4 linked regions of the Homo sapiens genome follow. The protein of the gene in region 3 purifies or fractionates together with the protein of the main gene of each other region. This does not show direct contact. Each region holds a gene or a part of one and is shown on either strand. Other genes may lie near its edges. The genes, in order: NGLY1, GNPTG, SERPINA4 and FDFT1.

Region 1 (5,129 bases), on a different chromosome or scaffold from region 3:
AATAGAAGTGGTGAAAGTGGGCATCCTTGTCTTGTTCTGGTTCTTGGGGGAATGCTTTCTACTTTTCCCTGTTCAGTGTACTGTTGGCTGTGAGTTTGTCATACAAAGTTTTGATTACCTTAAGGTATGTCCCTTCTATGCCAATTCTGCAGACCTGTCTAGTGCTGTCAGTGAGTATTGAAGTCTCCACTATTATTGTGTTGTTGTCTATCTCATTTCTTAGGTCTAGTAGCAATTGTTTTATAAATTTGGGAGCTCCAGTGTTAGGTGCATACATATTTAGGACTGTAATGTTTTCCTGTTGGACTAGCCCTTTTATCATTAAATAATGCCCCCCTTTGTCTTTTTTTAACTGTTGCTTTGAAGTCTGTTTTGTCTAAGAATAGTTACTCCTGCTGGCTTTTGGTTTTCATTTGCATGGAATATCTTTTTTCACCCCTTTACCTTAAGTTTATGTTAGTCTTTATGTATTAAGTGAGTCTCTTAGAGACAGAGAATACATGGTTGGTAAATTCTTACTCATTCTGACATTCTGTGCAGCATTTAGGCCACTGACATTCAATGTTAGTACTGAGATGTGAGGTACTATTCTAGTGATCATGCTAGTTGTTGTGTGAATACTTTGTTTTTTTTTCATTATTTATTGTTTTATAGGTTCTGTGAGATTTATGCTTTAAGGAGGTTATAATTTGGTGTATTTCGAGGTTTTATTTCAATATTTAGAGCTCCTTTTTAGCAGTTCTTGTAGTGCTAGCTTGGTAGTGGCAAATTCTCTTGGCATTTGTTTGTCTGAAAGACTATCTTTCCTTCATTTATGAAGCTTAGTTTTGCTGGATGCAAAATTCTTAGCTGATAATTATTTTGTTTAAAGAGGCTAAAGATAGGACCCCAATCCCTTCTAGCTTGTAGGGCTTCTACTGAGAAATCTGCTGTTAATCTGATAGGTGTTCCTTTTTAGGTTATCTGATGCTTTTGCCTAAGAGCTTGTAAGATTATTTCCTTTGTCTTGACTTTAGATAACCTGAGGACTATGTGCCTAGGTGATGATCTTTTTGAGATGAATTTCCCAGGTGTTCTTTGAGCTTCTTATATTTGGATATGTAGATCTCTAGGAAGGCCAGAGAAGTTTTCCTCAATTATTCCCTCAAATATGTCTTCCAAACTTTTAGATGTATTTTCTTCCTCTGGAACACTAATTATTCTTGGGTTTGGTCATTTAACATAATCCCAAACTTCCTTGGGGCTTTGATCATTTTTAAAATTCTTTTTTGTCTTTGTTGGATTGGGTTAATACGAAAGCCTCATCTTTGAGCTCTGAAGTTCTCTTCTACTTGTTCAATTCCATTGTTGAAACTTTCCGATGCATTCTGCATTTCCCTAGGTGTGTTCTTCACTTCCAGAAGTTGTAATTGTTTTTTATTTATACTATTTATTTCTCTGGAGATTTTTTTTCATCCATATCCTGTATCACTCTTTAAATTTCTTTAAGTTCTCTGGTGTCTCCTTAAGTAACCTAATAATTGACCTTCTGAATTCTTTTTCTGGCAATTCAGAGATTTCTTCTTGGTTTGGATCCATTGCTACTATGCTAGTGTGATCTTTTGGGGATGTTAAAGAACCCTGTTTTGTCATATTACCAGAATTGTTTTTCTGGTTCCTCCTCATTTAGGTATAGACTATGTCAGAGGAAGGATCAGGGGCTCAAGGGCTGCTGTTCAGATTCTTTGGCCCCATGGGGTGCTCCCTTGATGTGGTGCTCTTCCCTTCCTCTAGGAATGGGGCTTCCTGAGAGCTGGACTGCAGTGATTGTTATTGCTCTTCTGGGTCTAGCAAACCAGTAGAGCTACTGGGCTCTGAACTGGTATTAGAGAGTGTCTGCAAAGAGTCCTGTGATGTGATCTGTCTTCAAGTCTCAGCCATAGATACCAGTACCTACTCTGATGGAGGTGGCAGGGGAGTGAAGTGGACTCTGTGTGGGACCTTGGTTGCAGTTTTGTTTAGTGTGTTGGTTTTCTCGAATTCCAGGTGTGCTGGTAGTAAAGCTGTCATGCGATTGGACTCAAGACCTCTGGTTAGCCAGGATGTTACAGGTGGTGGAATTAGCTGTTGTATTCTCTTTTCTTGGGGCAGAGTTGTTCTTTAATGAGTTGCTGTAATGGTTTCAGTTGGTTGGCCCCCAGCCAGAAGGTGATGCTTTCAAGACAGCATCAGCTGCAGTAGTATCAAGAAGATGTAAGCTTGCCCTAGGGTTGCCTGCATAAGTATTTGGGTTTCTCAGGCAGTGGGCAGGGCCATAGAGTTCCCAAGAGATTATGTCTTTTCTCTCAGAAAGACCATCAGGTGAAGGCAGGGTTAGGCATGTCTGAGAGCAGACTCTCTTTGGGTTGGGCTTGTTGTGGCCACTGTGGCGGATGGGGGTGTGGTTCTCAGGCCAATGGAGTTATGTTTCCAGGGGGATTACAGCTATCTCTGCTGCATCATACAGGTCACCAGGGAAGTGGGGGAAAGCCAGCAATAACAGGCCATACCCAGCTCCCACACAGCCAGAAGGGCCAGTCTCACTCCCACCATGCTCCACCAATAGCACCATGTTTATATCCAGGCAGTGTACGCAGGGTTGAGATTTTGCCCCAGGCTACAAGTCTCCCCACTGAGAAAGCAATCAGGGTTTTCAGGCTTCACCCCTCTCCGTCTGCCTTGGCTTCTGTGCTTGTATCTGCAGTATCTGCATTTCCCATTTGCCACCTCCCCTACACACCCCAGTCCAGGAAAATTCGTGTTCAGCTGCAAGTTTCATTCTCCCTGTGGTCTTTCCCCAATTCCACTGGCAGCCCTCCCCAAGGACCCCTGTGAGATAAAGTCAGAAATGGCTTCCTTGGTGGCCAGGAGTGCCTGCAGGCTCTTCTCGCTGCTTGTTCTACTTTTATATTTCACTCAGCTCTCTAAATTAATTTCAGCTCTAGGTAAGGTTAAACCCTTCTCCCGTGATCTGGATTTTCAGGTTCCCCAGTGGACTTTCCCCGTCACACTTCGGGCACTCACAGGTTTTCCTCTGTCTCATGGAATTTGCAGCAGCAAGCTGCTTTTTTCAAAGGGTCTGTGAATTCTTTTGGTTTTCCTGGTATGTTCCTCTAGTATTTCTCAGAGCAAAAGTTCACGATGTGAGTTTCCAGGCACTGTTCTGTCAGTCCAATTGGGAGCTGCAAGTTAGTCCTGTCTCCTATCCACCATTTTCCAAAATCAGCATATTGAAGAGGTATCTGCATTCCTATGTTTACTGCAGCACTATTCACAATGGCCAAGATATGGAATTAACCTAATTGTCCATCAATAGATGAATGGATAAAGAATATGTGGTATCTATACACAACGGAATATTATTCCACCATAAAAAAGAACAAAATCCTGTCATTTGCATCATCATGGATGGAAATGGAGGGACATTATGTTAAGTAAAATAAGCCAGAATTCAGAAAGACAAATAACACATGTTCTCACTCATATGTGGGAGCTAAAACAATTGATCCCATAGAAGAAAAGAGTGATTGTAAAAAGATATTACAAAATTAAATAAAAATTTAAAAAAATAAAGAAGAGTGGAATGGCAGTTACCAAAGGCTTGGAGGGATAGAAGGGACTGGGCAATAGAAAGAGATTGGTTAATGGGCACAAAATTACAGTTAAATAGGAGGAATAATTTCTCATGTTCTATAGCACAATACGGTGACTACGGTTAAAAACAATTCATTGTATATTTCAAAATAGCTAGAAGACAGAATTTTGAATGTTTCTAACACAAAGAGATGATAAATGTTTGAGATCATGGATGTTCCAATTACTCAGATATGTTCATTACACATTTGTATGCTAGCATCAAAATATCACCTGTACCCCATAATGTACAACTATTATGTATTCATATAATTATTCTTTAAAAAGTCCACCAACTTTCTTTTTGGTGGTAGAGTTCAAGTCCTGAGGTGTGATGTCTAAAGCCGAACAGAAACTTTAAGTATAAATTAGTCATATCAAAACCTGTTAATCTTTTCTGAGACTGTGACTCCATTTGCATCAAATACTTCTGCAAGTCTCAGTGTGGCCTGTTATTTGGCACTGCAGTGACCAACACTGGTTTGCCTGAGACCGAGGGGTTTTCTGGGATGTGGGACTTTCATTGCTAAAACCAGGACAGTACTGAGCAAACTGGAATGGCTGGCTACCCTACTTGGCACTCAAATATTTGCTGAATGAAAGACAAATCTAATTCTATCGAATATGTGACACTTCGACATGAGAAATGGGTAGAGTCTTCCGTTGTCATTTACTCAATTTTCCCAACCAATTTGAATCTTGAAAATTGGCATTTCCTTGAACAAGGAATTTTAAATTCTTTATGTTCGGATACCTTTGTATCATCTATAATCAGATGACACCATAATTTATATCCCCTGCCTAATCTCTCCTTTGGGGTTGTAAACTCATATAGCCAACTGCTTACTTGGCTTCTCTACTTGAATATTTAACAGCAAATTGGTCACAATTGTCCAAAGACAGGTGTTAGTTTCTCCCCTAAAACCTGCTACTCTCCAAGGCTTCTCTATCTCAATTAATGATACTCCCATCCAATTAGTTGCTTAAACCAAAACATAGGTAAGTCCCCGATTCCTTCCTTTCCCTTATATCTTACATCTAAATCACCAGTAAGTCCTGTTGATTCTGTCACAAAAAGAAATCCTGGATCCATCTACTTCTCTCCATCTCCACCATCAGTACTTAATTCAACAAATCTTTATTGAGTACCTAACATCTGTAATGCACCAGCATTATTCCAGGAGCTAGCAACACAGGGAACAGAAATGACAAAAAACCCTGCCTTCATGGACTTTATACAAACCACTACCATTTCTTATTTAGACTAATGTAATAAGCTTTCTAACCGGTCTCCCTGCTTCATCCCTTGTCCCCATCCCACCACCTCCAGGAATTCTCTTTACAGCAAGCTAGAATAATCTTCAAAAATATTTTTCCCTACTTAAAACTTTCCAGGCTGGGCACGGCGGCTCACGCCTGTAATCCCAATACTTTGGGAGGCCAAGGCGGGCGGATCGCCTGAGGTCAAGAGTTCGAGA
Region 2 (5,129 bases), on a different chromosome or scaffold from region 3:
TCTACTAAATAAAAATGAGCCAGGTGTGGTGGCTCACGCCTGTAATCCCAGCTACTTGAGAGGCTGAGGCAGGAGAATCGCCTGAGCCTGGGAGGCAGAGCTTGCAGTGAGCCAAGATGGCGCCACTGTACTCCAGTCTGGGCCACAGAGTGAGACTCCATCTCAAAAAAAAAAAAGGACAAACACCATAAGCAACTGAAAAGATCCCACATGACTGATCATTAGGGAAATGCAAATTAAAACAACCCTAAGGTACCGCTTCACACCCACTAGGATGGCTGTTAGCAAAAAACAGTGTTGGTGAAAATGTGGAGAAACTGGACCCCTCGTGCAATGCTGGCTGGAATGGGAAACGGTGCAGCCACTATGCAAACAGTTTGGTGGTTCCTCAAAAAGCTAAACATGGAATTCTAATAAGATCCAGCAAAGCTACTCTCAGAAATTGGAAGCAGAGACTCAAATATTTACACCCAAGTTCACAGCAGCCTATTCCCAGGCAGAGGGTGGAAGCCACTCCAGTGTCCATGGACAGATGACGGGTAAACAACAACGTGGTCTGTCCTTGCAGTGGAACAGTCCTCAGCCATATAAAAAGGAAGCACTGAGAGCCTCCAGCCTGGGGGACCTTGGGGACACTGTGCCAAGAGGAGTTGGTCAGACACAAAAGGTCGCACACAGTTATGAGTCACCTATGTGACGTCTATGAATAGCCAAGTTCAGAGACAGCAGAATGGTGGGTGCCGGGGCTGGGGGAGCGGGGCAGCTGGGAGTCAGGGTTTGAAGGGGACAGAGCAAGTTGTGGAGATGATGGTGCTGACGGTTGCAGGGCAGTGTCACCAGCGCCTGGGGGAAGAGGGAAGGCGTGCAGCGTCCCTACCCTCCAGCCAGGCCAGCCCCAGGCAGTGCTAGAGCAAGGGCGTGTACACATCAAGGCCAGTGGCAACTCGTGAGTCAAGCCACAGCAGCCACCCTGTTCTTTAAGCTGGGGAGTCGGGACCTGGCTGGGGACGCCACCTTAACACAGCGCCCACCGAGACTGTCAGCCACGGGCCATCCTCCAGGACTGTGGGGAAGGCTGGGGCTTGGGCCGTGGAGGCAGGGAGGGGACTGGCCCCCATCCCCGTCCCCTGAAGGGCCTGCGCTGCAGCAGCAAGTGCACTGGTTAGAGGAGGACGCCCCAGACTGATGTTTCAAACTCTCTGTAGTTTTACCGTATTAATAATAAAGTCGAGGCCAGGCGCGGTGGCTCATGACTGTCATCCCAGCACTGTGGGAGGCCGAGGCGGGCAGATCACGAGGTCAGGAGATCGAGACCGTCCTGGCTAACACGGTGAAACCCCGTCTCTGTTAAAAACACAAAAAATTAGCCGGGCATGGTGGCGGGCGCCTGTAGTCCCAGCTACTCAGGAGGCTGAGGCAGGAGAATGGCGTGAACCCGGGAGGCGGAGCTGGCACTGAGCCGAGATCGCGCCACTGCACTCCAGCCTGGGCGACACAGCACTCCAGCCTGGGCGACACAGCGACACTCGGCTCTAATAATAATAATAATAATAATAATAAAGTCGAAATACACACGAGGTGCTGGGTGACTGTTCCCTGGGAATCTGGCCAGCCCAGGAGCCAGATGCCACACTGGGGCCACCCTCAGCCTGGCCCCCGCCCCCGGAGGGCAGAGGCTAATGCCACTGAGACCTCTGGGGTGCTGGCCCGGCCTGGCCTTCTGTTCCCTGACATTCCACTCACCCCTGGGGCTGTCCCCTCCCAAGACAGATGGAGACCAAGATGGCCAGGCTGCCCTGCTCAGGGGACAGGGGCTGTGGATATAGAAAGGTCCTGGTCCTTCCTTGTCAAATACCATCTGGGTGGCCCCTACTCCCAGGCTCACCCACTGTCCTCCCAGCCTGACCGCTGGGGGCTCTACCTCAGCCCTGTCACACCTGCTGTCCCACAGCCTGGGGTGCTTGGGCTTGGTCCCTCCAGTCTGGCCCTAGGGCCCTGCCCAACAGGCACATAGGGAAGCCTTTGGAGCCATCCCAGAGACCCTGATGTGTCCCTCACCCATCTGCCACTCAGACTCCTGCCCGCAGACCGCCACCCGCACACTCCCGCCCGCAGACCCCCGCCCGCACACTCTCGCCCGCACACTCCCGCCCGCAGACCCCCGCCCGCAGATTCCCGCTCTCACACTCCCGCTGGGAGGGTGGCTGGTCAAGCTCCTGTGTCCTGGGAACTCACGTTCCCAGGCTTGCCCCAGGCAGACACTGCTTGGAGACACCCCAGGAGGGGCGTGGGCGCCGGGCTTAGCTCTGCACCTGCAGGGCCATCCGTCTAAACAGGACTGTGTGAGGGCAGCGGGGCCTGGCCTGGCTCCCCAGCTGGGAGGAGGCCTCTGCCTGGGTGCTGTCCACAGCTTCAGTGGACTCCTACTGGCTGAGGTGCAGCCTCCCGCAGGGGATGGTACCACAAGCCCCCAACTGGCAGTGCCCAGTACCCCAGGTCCTCTGCTGCTGGCCCACACCAGAACCCCGGCCACGGCCCCTCCCCTCCGCCTGGCCCTCAGGTTTCAGCAGCCTGTCCTCCTGAGACAGGTGGGGGCTGGCCCCTCCACGCCTCTTGGGCCAGACACAGCCATACCTGAGCGGGAGTCTCTACCCCCAAATACCACCACCCCCAAATGCCACCACCCCTGCCGGGAGGCTTCTCCTCTGCTCCTGCTTCACCCGCACGTCCCCTGCAGGCTCCGTGTTCACGGCCTGCATGGCCAGGACACTCGCCGGTGCCCTTGGCTCCCGCGGGCCCAGGTGGCCTTACTGCCAGCTGTCCCTGCACCCGAGGCCACAGCTCAAGGCCCATCAGCTTGGCTGAGCCTGGACTCCGTTTCCCCTCTGCCCCGGTCAGGCTTCGGTGGGCAGCACTCCCCCTAGGGCTGCGTCTCTTGGTGACAATCCCTTCTCAAGGGTGGTCCTCCCTCCCACGCTGCTCCCTGGCCCGGCCCCACACCTGGTCCCAGTACCCTCCCAACCTCCACAACCCCCACACGCCACCAAGAACTTCACCGGGGACCTCACCCTCACCCTCCGGCCTCACGCACCCCCTGGTGAGTCCTGTGCCCACCGTGACCCTCTCCAAGCACCAGGGACTGCCTGGCAGACCCAGCCCGGCCCCAGCCGAAAGCAAGCTCCCAGCCTGACCCCTGCAACTCACATGCTGGGAGCCGCACTTGCCATGGCTTCTCTAGCCAGGATCCCGGGGCCACTCTACTCCTCCCCCGCCCCCTCCCCAGATCCAGGACCCTGCCAAGGCCCCAGAGTCCTGCCCAGCTGGCCGCTCCCTCCCACCGCCACCGAGGCAGAGCTCCCTCCTGGACAGTGTGCTGGGCTATGCTGGACTCTGCTGGGCGCTGGCAGGACCACCACACTGACCGTGCCCCATTCCCTCTCCATGCCACAGCGGGACACTGTCTCCAAATCACAGACCTACCAACCTCTGCTCCTCCTGCTGTCAAGGGACGAGGCTCCCGACTCATCTGGTGGAGGCCATGGAGCTGCCCACTGCCCAGCCCAGCCCCACCAGCCTCGGCCCTGGCAAGCCCACCCCTTCCTTCTCCTTGGCAGACACTCTTCTGCGGGGACCTTCTGAGCCCTAGGCCACAATCACCACGCCCCTGAGTTTCTCAGCCTGATTATCTTTCTGCTCAGCTCATTCCACAGACCACACTCTCCTACCCACTGCACACAATCCGCCTCACACGTTGATGTTGAAGGAGCGCTACATCAAAGACAGAAAAAACAAGTAGAATATCCACACCCGACCCCACAGACGCAGGAGAGGATCCACACCCGACCCCACAGACGCGGGAGACGATCCACACCCGACCCCACAGACGCGGGAGACCATCCACACCCGACCCCGCAGAGGCGGGAGACCATCCACACCCGACCCCGCAGACGCGGGAGACCATCCACACCCGACCCCGCAGACGCGGCAGACCATCCACACCCGACCCCGCACATGCGGGAGACGATCCACGCCCCACCCCGCAGATGCGGGGGAGTATCCAGGCCCCACCCCACAGACGCGGGGGACTTTCCACGCCCGGCCCCACCCCACAGACGTGGGAGACAATCCACGCCCGGCCCTACAGACGCGGGGGAGTATCCACGCCCAGCCCTACAGACGCGGGGGACTATCCACGCCTGACCCCACAGGCGCAGGAAAAAATGGTCTGGAGAAAAACACCATCAACAAAACAAAAAGATCAGGAAACTGGGAAACAAATGTGCCACTTACATCCAAAGGTGGGAAGAGAACTGTTCCAAATTAAAACACTAAAGACACATAATGAACCAAATGCACATGTGAACCTGACTGGCCCTGATGTGGGGATGGGGGTGGGAAAACTAGAAGAGGTATTCTTTTCTAAATTTTTATGGGTTTTTTTTTTTTTTTTTTTTTTTTGAGACGAAGTCTTGCTCTGTCACCCAGGCTGGAGTGCAGGGGCATGATCTCAGCTCACCGCAGCCTCCGCCTCCTGGATTCAAGCAATTCTCCAGCCTCGGCCTCCCAAGCAGCTGGGATTACAGGAGGATACCACTATGCCCGGCTAACTTTTGTTTTTGTGGTTTTTTTTAGTAGAGACGGGGTTTCACCATGTTGGCCAGGCTGGTCTCGAACTCCTGACCTCAAGCGATCGTCACACCTCAGGCTCCCGAGCAACATGCACGCACCACCACGACCAGCATATTCTGTTTTCTTTCCAGGACTCTCACCTCCAAAAAGACGTGGTCCCATTAGCCAAGGCTGCCTCTCTCCTACTGGAAGGGGTTCGGTCGGGAACTGCGCTGTTACACAGTGGCCTGCCTCCTCCCCAGCTTCTTGGGATAGGTGGTGGCCCGACTCCAGCACTTCAGGCCCTGGGAAGCCACCATCCCATGGCTTCTGAGCCGCAGGGAAGTGAGCCTAACCCCAGGTGCGCCATCACGCCCAGCCACACAACAAAAAACTTAAAAAGATGTGTTTGGAGTCAAAGTCCACCAAACCTACCAACACGGTGCGGCACCATCTGATCCCCTTTATCTCTGATCTGTGGCTACCCCAGCTGAATCCCCTCTGGCCCTGGCTGTCCTGCT
Region 3 (4,165 bases):
GCACCACATTCTGCTCTAGCGCGTGGTACAGCAGTAAGCAAAGCAGCAGCTGCTATTCCGGTGGCAGGAAAAGTCTGTCCAAGTGGAGAAGCAGCAGATGCTGGGAAGGAATATGGGCTTCATGTTCAGTGGCCACGGAGCAGACCCTGACTCTGGAATCTGAGCTAACAATGTCTCCGGGCTTACATTTTCTCATGTGTAAAATGGGCCAAGCTTAGTATACCTAGAGTGTATAGGCAAGGGAAAGAGAGAGATGAGTGAGGGAAAGCGAGAATCCACTGAGACAGTAGCTCTCACTTTGCCTGACCTGCTAGCTTCCTCTCTTGTCCTGGTGTTGACCCATTTTGGACCTCAGGCCAGCTGGCTCCAGGGCTGTGCTTGTGCCTGCTCTGCCATCCCCATGTCTACATCGCTCAGGGCTCCCAGCCCACTGTGCTGCTCAGTGGTGTATATTTCACTTACCTTAAGGCCCAACGACTTGGAAACACATCCAGAAAGTCTGCTAGAGGATGCCTGAATGGTCAAGGTCATCTCAGTCAGGGCACCCAGGGCCACATTGCTCCCTGCAGTCCTTCCCCACATAGCTTGAGAAATGGCTGCCCCAGGAGGGTGCAAGGGTGCAAGGGTGCAGGGGTTCACTGATTACTGGGGAGAGAACAAGTTCAATTCCATGGTTAAAGAAGAAAAATGCAAATTGAATACCTGGCCCAAGGAGGTTCCTGGTCCCACCCCATGCCACCCTTGCCCTGGGATGTACTCTCCTTATGGTCTGACCTATGAGATCTCAGTGGACTCTATCCTCAGAAATCACAGAGTCCAGGATTGCAAACTGGAGGCCCTGCTGTGAGGCCCTGCCCACAGGTGGGTCTTGCCTGGCCTGTAGAGAGCTGGCTCTCTCACTTCCACACATCCCCACCATTCCCCACCGTGGCACCATGGAGTCTTCCTTACCTGATCTAGGAAGGCGGCGCTGGAGCTTGCTGCCCCCTGTCTGATCCAGCCCCTCATGTTGTAGGAGGGAGGTGGGCGACTGAAGCTCAGAGAGGGAGTAAATGAGCTCAACTTCACACAGCTAGTGAGGGGCTGGTTGGAGACCAGATTTTCCAAGTGGTTCCCCGGGCCCTCGGGGAGCAGCAAGGGCCAGGCGAACCTCCATGCACTGCACAAACATGAAGAAGTGAACCCTCTTGGGGTTCCCCAGGTGGGAAGTGGGGTGTCTTCTTGGGAGGGGGTGAACCAACTTCTGGTGAGTTTTCCTTGTTGAGGCAATGCTGCACCCGTAGCCTGTTTGTTAATAATTACCTGGTCGGGAGAGAGTGGGTGGTACTGAGAAGGCCTGGTTTGACCAGTCCTCCTGGGCTTGATAAGACAGAGCTGAGACAGCCACCCAGGGGGTCCACTCCAGGACAGACTGTGCCGTGAGTAACCCCCTGAGACAATGGAGACGAGAGACTCTAGAGGGAGGGTGACCAACTGTTCCACTTTGCCCAAGACTGATAATTCTTCTGGGATATATTTTCAGTGCTAAAACCAGGAAAGTCCCAGGCAAGCTGGGACACTTTGTCACTCTTGCTAGAGGTGAGAAATACTCAGGCTAGAAAGGCCCCGACTTAGGGTCCATGGGCACTGGTGGGTGACTATGCCCGGAGACCCAGAAAAGCCTCCCCCAGGGACACACAGCTGGTACAGGGCGGCACTGACTGAGGGCCAAGGTCTTCTGGCTGCCAATCCAGGTGATCTTGGGGAGCTCATGCCGGAGGGGAGGTGTGTCTGTGAGTGATGCGGTCCTATGTATGTTTCTAAATGATCCCTCCAACTGCTGAGTGGAGAACAGAGAGCAGAAAGACTAGGAAGCTTTCTGCAAGGGTCTAGGTCAGGGGTCAACAAACCACAGCTTGTAGGTCAAATCCGGCCCACCGCCCATGAGCTAAGAATGCAAGATGTAAAATATAAATATAAAATATAAGTGATAAGTATAAAAGATAAATATATAAAGCTATGAAAAATCAATAGAAGAACAACATTTTGTGACACAGGAAAATAATATGAAATTCACATTTCAGTGTCCGTAAGTGAAGTTTCACTGAAACACAGCCACGCCTCTTCATGCATGTCCGGTCTGTGGCTGTTTCCAGCTGCCACAGCAGAGTTGGGTAGTGGCAGCAGAGACTGTGTGGTCTGCAAAACCACAGATATTACTATCTGGCGCTTTGCAGAAAAAGTTTTCTGAGCCCTGGTTGAGGATCATAGCAAAAGAGGGGGCGAGAGGCTGAAGAACCTACAGGAGAGTCTAGGAGTTGGAGACCAGCTTGGGCAGCATGGTGAGACCCCAACTCTATAAAAAATTAGCTGGGTGTGGCTGTGCATGCCTGTAGTTCCAGCTACTTGGAAGGGTGCATGCCTGTAGTTCCAGCTACTTGGAAGGGTGAAGTGGGAGGATCACCTGAGCTCAGGAAGTCAAGGCTGCAGTGAGCCATGATTACACCACTGCACTCCAGCTTGGGTGACAGAGTGAGACCCTGTCTCAAACAAACAAACAAACAACCAAACAAACAAAAAAAACCCAACCCTGCAGGTCATGGAAGTGGATTAAATGGATTTTGGGTGGATAGAAGCCTAGAAGCTTTTTGGCCTGACAACCGGATACTGGTGGGACCATTTGATGGGGCAGGAGCAGATTTGGGGGAGAAACTGGAGTATCCTTTCTTGGACAGATGTTCATTATGAAACGGGTACCAATTCTATCCCCACAACTTTGGGCAGGTCACTTATTAAACATCCATGTCCTTGTCTGTACGGGGTAACAATACAAAGACCAGTTCTACTGACCTCTACAGGGGTGGGAGGGTCAAACTAAATGGCTGAAAGTGGTTTGTAAACCATATAAAGCACTCCACAGATGTTTGTGGAACAGACCCTAAAATAAACTCTGAGGATAGCCATCCTCCATGCAAAATCACTGCACTAATGAAATCAACTCATCTGAAAGACAAGTGTGGGAGAAGCAGCACCTGAGTCTGGGGATGTGGGTTCTGGCTGGGATATGTGCTAGGTAGGTGACTTGGGTGAGTCACTTTGGGAGTCTTCATTTCCTGCTCTGTTGGGTGAGAATGGAGTCTAGTGCTGTGCAGAGCTCACACAGGTGGGAAACACAATGACATGATGGACACAAGGAGTGTGCCTTGTAAGTCTAAAACATTGCCATCCAATAGTGTTGCTGTCACCATACATGTGGAAGGTGGTGGGTGTTACATTGCCTTTCACAAGCCCATCTGCAGGAGTTGAGGGTGTCACTCACGATCTCCGGGTGCTGGCCCACTGCCAGCCTTCTCAGTAGGGCCAGGTGTTCTTCTGGGGGAATTTCCTGGGCATTCTCTTCCCTCCCATAGGCCTGAGAGTGCAGAGGATGCATCTTATCGACTACCTGCTCCTCCTGCTGGTTGGACTACTGGCCCTTTCTCATGGCCAGCTGCACGTTGAGCATGATGGTGAGAGTTGCAGTAACAGCTCCCACCAGCAGATTCTGGAGACAGGTGAGGGCTCCCCCAGCCTCAAGATAGCCCCTGCCAATGCTGACTTTGCCTTCCGCTTCTACTACCTGATCGCTTCGGAGACCCCGGGGAAGAACATCTTTTTCTCCCCGCTGAGCATCTCGGCGGCCTACGCCATGCTTTCCCTGGGGGCCTGCTCACACAGCCGCAGCCAGATCCTTGAGGGCCTGGGCTTCAACCTCACCGAGCTGTCTGAGTCCGATGTCCATAGGGGCTTCCAGCACCTCCTGCACACTCTCAACCTCCCCGGCCATGGGCTGGAAACACGCGTGGGCAGTGCTCTGTTCCTGAGCCACAACCTGAAGTTCCTTGCAAAATTCCTGAATGACACCATGGCCGTCTATGAGGCTAAACTCTTCCACACCAACTTCTACGACACTGTGGGCACAATCCAGCTTATCAACGACCACGTCAAGAAGGAAACTCGAGGGAAGATTGTGGATTTGGTCAGTGAGCTCAAGAAGGACGTCTTGATGGTGCTGGTGAATTACATTTACTTCAAAGGTGAGAGTCAGATCATTGGTATATGCTAAATCCACACCACCGCCTCCAACCCACTAATTTGTTGACTGGTTAAATATATTTTTACAAAAATGTAAGTAAAAACGTTGTGT
Region 4 (5,129 bases), on a different chromosome or scaffold from region 3:
TTCTGTGGGGCAGTTGGCCTTTTTCTTAACTTTTAGAAGTTTTTTTTAATATTAGGAATATGAACCCTGTATCTGCTCTATGAATTGCAAATATTGTTTCCCTCTGTCACTTTTTTTTTTTCTTGAGACAGTTTCATTCTGCCACCGAGGCTGGAGTGCAGTGGTGTGATTACAACTCAATCCAACCTTGAGCTCCTGCGCTCAAGGGATCCTTGTGCCTTAGCCTCCCGAATACCTAGGAATACAGGTGCATGCCAACATGCCCAGTTAATCTTTTAAATTTAGTTTTATTTTTTCTACTTTCTTTAATTTTTATTTTTGCTCTTTCAGCAGAATCATTTTCTAACAATTTTTTATAGAGATGGTATCTTGCTGTGTTGCTCAGGCTGGTCTTGAACTCCTGGCCTCAGCACTGGGATTATAAGTATGAGACACCACACTTAGCCTCACCCGTCTTTTTAAAACTTTAAAGTACTTGGCTGCAGGAAACACTTTTATGGAAAGCAAAAGGTAAATGCTGGAATAAATTCAGGGAACAGTCATAAAATTTTCTACTTTCCTTCTGAACAAAATCAGTATCAAAAGCTTTCTGTTCCCTGTCCATGTTTTAATTAAAGATCGACCCTGTCCCTTATTACAGACACCTGGAGTTTTTGTCTACCTGCCATCCCTTTCCCCTTCCTGCTGCAGAATTCTTTCTTTGGGGGAAATCCATTCTGTGTGTACTGTGTAGACGTAATCCAGGCGAGGCCAGAGAACTCAGCTGTGTAGCAACAGTAACTGATTCAGGGCTGAGCAGAAGAACCAAGCCCTTCCTCTTCTTTTGAGAGGGAGTCTCACTCTGTCGCCCAGGCTGGAGTGCAGTGGCACAATCTGAGCTCACCGCAATCTCTGCTTCCTGGGTTCAAGCGATTCTCCTGCCTCAGCCTCCCAGGTAGCTGGGATTACAAGCCCTTGCCACCACGCCCGGCTAATTTTTGTATTTTTTAGTAAACACGGGGTTTCACGATGTTGGCCAGGCTGGTCTCGAACTCCTGGCCTCAGGTGATCCGCCCACCTTGGCCTCTCAAACTGTTGGGATTACAGGCATGAGCCACTGCGCCAGGCCGAACAAAGCCATTCCTAAGAACTTTTTGTTAAGCTAGTGCACATGGGTTGTTACCATATCCACCACTTGGAGAAAGACCGTCTGAAAGAAATCAAGGACAGCAAGGCTTGAATATACTGATTACGTGGTGTGAATCCTGGGAGTCAGCCAGTCTACCTGAAGCAAACTCATGTCAAGCTATCCTATTTTCCACATCCCCTTATGCTGCCTGGGGGAGGCCTGACTTGTTTTTCTGTCACCCGCAACCACAAGAGTTAAAGGATTTTTCAGAGAATGTCTAAAGTTATTTTCCCCCAAAATACCCTGAATCTGTTACCTCTTGAGGCCAGAACTCTCTTCCTCCTTGCTGGTCTTCCAGATAGTCACGGATGATGTTTGTTTTCTGCAAAAACAGGCCCATAGAGTTGGCACGTTCTGTATCTTCACCAACTAAGGGGTCTTCAAACTCTGAGGCTGAGAAAAGACGGGAAAGGCCAATTCCGACCAGCCCAGCAACATAGTGGCAGTACTGTAAGAGACGATTTTTAAAGCACTTTAATAATGGAATTTTTACTGAAATGGACACACTAGAGATCATTAGCTACAAAAAAGCAGGTTCAAAAGAGAATGGGTAAGAATGCATTTTGATTTTAAAATACAAATATACATACCAGGATTTAAAAAACATTCAAGAAGGATGTGCTCAAAACATTTCATAGCAGTCTCTGGCTGACGGGAATTTGATGTTTTTATTTTTCACTTGTATTTTCCAAATTTCTACAATACACATGTACTGCTACTATAATAAAAGGCTACTGAAAAAAACTAGTAAACATTTTTTTATTTTTATTTTTTATTTTTTTTTTGAGATGGAGTCTCATATATTTGCCCACGTTAGACTCAAACTACTGGACCCAAGCAATCTTTCTGCCTCAGCTTCCCGAACAGCTGGGATTGTAGGCAAATACCACCGTGTCTAGCTTTACAATAACTTTTTTTTTTTTTTTTTTTTTGAGATCAAGTCTCACTTTGTCCCCTGGGCTGGAGTGCACTGGCACAATCTCAACTCACTGCAACCTCTGCCTCTTGGGTTCAAGTGATTCTCCTGCCTCAGCTTCCTGAGTAGCTGGAATTAAAGCACCCACCACCACATCCAGCTAATTTTTTATTTTTAGTAGAGACGGGGTTTCACCATGTTGGCCACGCTGGTCTCGAACTCCTGACCTCAACTGATCTGCCAGCCTTGGCCTCCCAAAGTGCTGGGATTACCAGCCCAAGACACCGTGCCCGCCCTAGCTTTACAATAAACTTTTTGATACATAAAACTATGAGAGAAGGCAACGATGAAAGATGGAATATTCTGGTAACAGGAACTAGGACAATACCAACTATGGTTTAATCTTTTTTTGACCAATCTGATAACATGTCAAGATCCGCAGGCCCTCAAAATCATCATTATATGAAAGAACAAATAACTATTTTATGTTCTTGACACGGTTTTAAGAACTCTGCACATTCAGCCGGGCACGATGGCTCATGCCTGTAATCCCAGCACTTTGGGAAGCTGAGACGGGCGGATCACGAGATCAGGAGATCAAGACCATCCTGGCTAAGACGGTGAAACCCCGTCTCTACTAAAAATACAAAAAAATTAGCTGGCCTGGTGGCGGGTGCCTGTAGTCCCAGCTACTCAGAAGGCTAAGGCAGGAGAATGGCGTGAACCCAGGAGGTGGAGCTTGCAGGGAGCCGAGATCGCGCCACTGCACTCCAGCCTGGGCGACAGAGTGAGACTCCGTCTCAAAACAACAACAACAGAAAAAAAGAACTCTGCACATTCAATCCTCACAAACATTGTATCAGGTACATAGCAGTATGATCTCCATTTCAGATGAGGAAACTGAGGCACAAAGAAGTCGATTTAACTTGCCCAACATTGCCCATGTGAGAAAAAAAAAAAATTAGCCAGGCACAGTGACACAGGCCAGTGGTCCCAGTTACTCAGGGGGCTGAAGTAGGAGGCTCGCTTGAACCCAGGAAGGTTCAAGGGGCTGCCGTGTCTGTGGCAGGGGCTAAGAGTTCAAAACTAGGTAGTATGACTTAAGTGTCAGGCTTTAACAACTTTGCTAAAACTTCCCCTTTTCTTTTTAGTTTTTCTTTTAGAGACAACGTAACTTCCCCTCTCTCAACAGAGATTTCAGTAAATGCAACTCTTAATTGCCAAATACTTTTTTTTTCCGCGACAGCAATTTGTCAAAAGCTGTCCTCCTCTGAAAAGGGTATCCTAAGACAACTTAATGCAATATCCACATACAATAATTGTCTATTAGTTAACTTAAGAAGCAAAAGTAAAGAAGGTAAGCTCTGGAGTGTCATTAGGAAGGGTAAAAGTTAGGAAATGACCGAAGTTCACGCCTGTAATCCCGGAATTTTGGGAGGCTGTGGAGAGGGGACTGCTTGAGCCCAAGAGTTTTAGACCAGCCTGGCCAACAAAGCAAGACCTCATCTCTGTAAAAAATTTTAAAAGGCTGAGTGTAGTGGCTCACACCTGGGAGGCTAAGGCAGGTGAATCGCTTGAGCCCAGGAGCTCAAGACCAGCCTAGGCAACACGATGAAACCCTGTCTCTACCAAAAAATTACAAAAATTAGCCTGGTGTAGTGGTGTGGACCTATAGTCCCAGCTAATGGGGAGGCTGAGGTGAGAGGACTGCTTGAGCACAGGAGGTGAAGGCTGCAGTGAGCCTTGATCATGCCACTACACTCCAGCCTGGGTGACAGAGCAATACCCTGTCTCAAAAATAATAAAAATTAAAATAAATTAGCCAGGCATGGTGGCAACGTGCCTGTGGTCCCAGTTACTCAGGAGGCTGAGGGCAAGGAAGATTGCTTGAGCCCAGAAGGTCAAGGCTGCCTTGTCTGTGCCACTGCATTCCAGTCTGGGTGACAGAGTGAGACCCTGTCTCAAAAAAAAAAAGTCGTCTCTGACTGAAAGTAATACAAAGCCAGAGACTAATCAGGGGGAAGAATGCACAGGTGAAGAGAAAGCACTTGAAATTTGTTCTGGGACAAAAGTAACATGAAAAGAGTGAAATCTTGCTGAAATTAGGTAGACAGAAATTGGCTTTGGACAGCTATACAAAATCTTCAAAAGAATTACTAGAAATTTAAAAAAAAATTAGTATATCTATAGTACTATCCAAAAATATATTTGAAGATAATAGTTCTTTTGGTAGAAATACTCCTAAAATGGAGACTTATATAATTCATCTTCCCCCAAAGTAGAAGAAAAAAAATAACTCCTTGAAATAATTGGCTGGTCATGCCTGTAATCCCAACATTTGAGAGGCCAGAGTGGGAGGACTGTTTGATGCCAGGAGTTTGAGACTAGCCTGGGCAACATGGCAAAACCCTCTCTCTACAAAAAATGTACAAAAATGAGCCTGGTATGGTGTCATGCACTGTAGTTACAGCTACTCGGTAGGCTGAGGTGGGAGGATCACCTGAGCCCAGGAGGTTGAGGCTGCGGGGAGCCGTGATCACACCACTACACACCAGCCTGGATAACAGCAAGACCCTGTCTCAAAAAAAATTTTTTTTAATTCAATTTTATCTGATCAAAACTTCTATTCAACAACCTAAAATTAAGTTTCCTGAATAAATCTGCACAACAGAAAATGAGTTACTATCATAACCAGTGCTGGTTCTTGGCCAGAAGTTTTAACTTCAACTTTATTTTCTTTCAGATGGTGTCTTGCTCTGTCACCCACGTTGGAGTGCAGTGGCACAATCATGGCTCACTGCAACCTTCAACTCTTGGGCTCAAGCAATCCTCCCACACCTCAGCCTCCAGAGTAGCTGGGACCACAGGCACATGCCACCAATTCCCTGCTCATTTTTTAATTTTTTGAAAGACGGGGTCTCGCTATGTTGCTTAGGCTTGTGTCTAACTCCTGGGCTCAAATGATCCTCCCACCTCAGCCTCCCAAAGTGCTGAGATTACAGGTAAACCATAGTACCCGGCTAACTTCACCTTAAATGCAGAAAT

The links.
Region 1: the proteins of SERPINA4 (region 3) and NGLY1 purify together in Homo sapiens (co-immunoprecipitation; one large-scale study listed by IntAct). This does not show direct contact.
Region 2: the proteins of SERPINA4 (region 3) and GNPTG purify together in Homo sapiens (co-immunoprecipitation; one large-scale study listed by IntAct). This does not show direct contact.
Region 4: the proteins of SERPINA4 (region 3) and FDFT1 purify together in Homo sapiens (affinity purification with mass spectrometry, with the first as the bait; one large-scale study listed by BioGRID). This does not show direct contact.

The regions. Positions count from the first base shown.
Region 1 is NC_000003.12:25,772,069-25,777,197, forward strand, and holds part of NGLY1 (peptide-N(4)-(N-acetyl-beta-glucosaminyl)asparagine amidase), read right to left. Parts: intron 1-5,129. UniProt on the Homo sapiens protein: Specifically deglycosylates the denatured form of N-linked glycoproteins in the cytoplasm and assists their proteasome-mediated degradation. Cleaves the beta-aspartyl-glucosamine (GlcNAc) of the glycan and the amide side chain of Asn, converting Asn to Asp.
Region 2 is NC_000016.10:1,353,915-1,359,043, reverse strand, and holds part of GNPTG (N-acetylglucosamine-1-phosphotransferase subunit gamma precursor), read right to left. Parts: intron 1-5,129. UniProt on the Homo sapiens protein: Non-catalytic subunit of the N-acetylglucosamine-1-phosphotransferase complex, an enzyme that catalyzes the formation of mannose 6-phosphate (M6P) markers on high mannose type oligosaccharides in the Golgi apparatus.
Region 3 is NC_000014.9:94,560,077-94,564,241, forward strand, and holds the start of SERPINA4 (kallistatin isoform 2 precursor), read left to right. Parts: upstream 1-1,365; 5' UTR 1,366-1,418; exon of another isoform or gene 1,419-1,639; coding exon of another isoform or gene 1,640-1,733; intron 1,734-3,389; coding exon of another isoform or gene 3,390-3,406; coding exon 3,407-4,055; intron 4,056-4,165. UniProt on the Homo sapiens protein: Inhibits human amidolytic and kininogenase activities of tissue kallikrein.
Region 4 is NC_000008.11:11,822,511-11,827,639, reverse strand, and holds part of FDFT1 (squalene synthase), read right to left. Parts: intron 1,617-5,129; coding exon 1,425-1,616; intron 1-1,424. UniProt on the Homo sapiens protein: Catalyzes the condensation of 2 farnesyl pyrophosphate (FPP) moieties to form squalene. Proceeds in two distinct steps.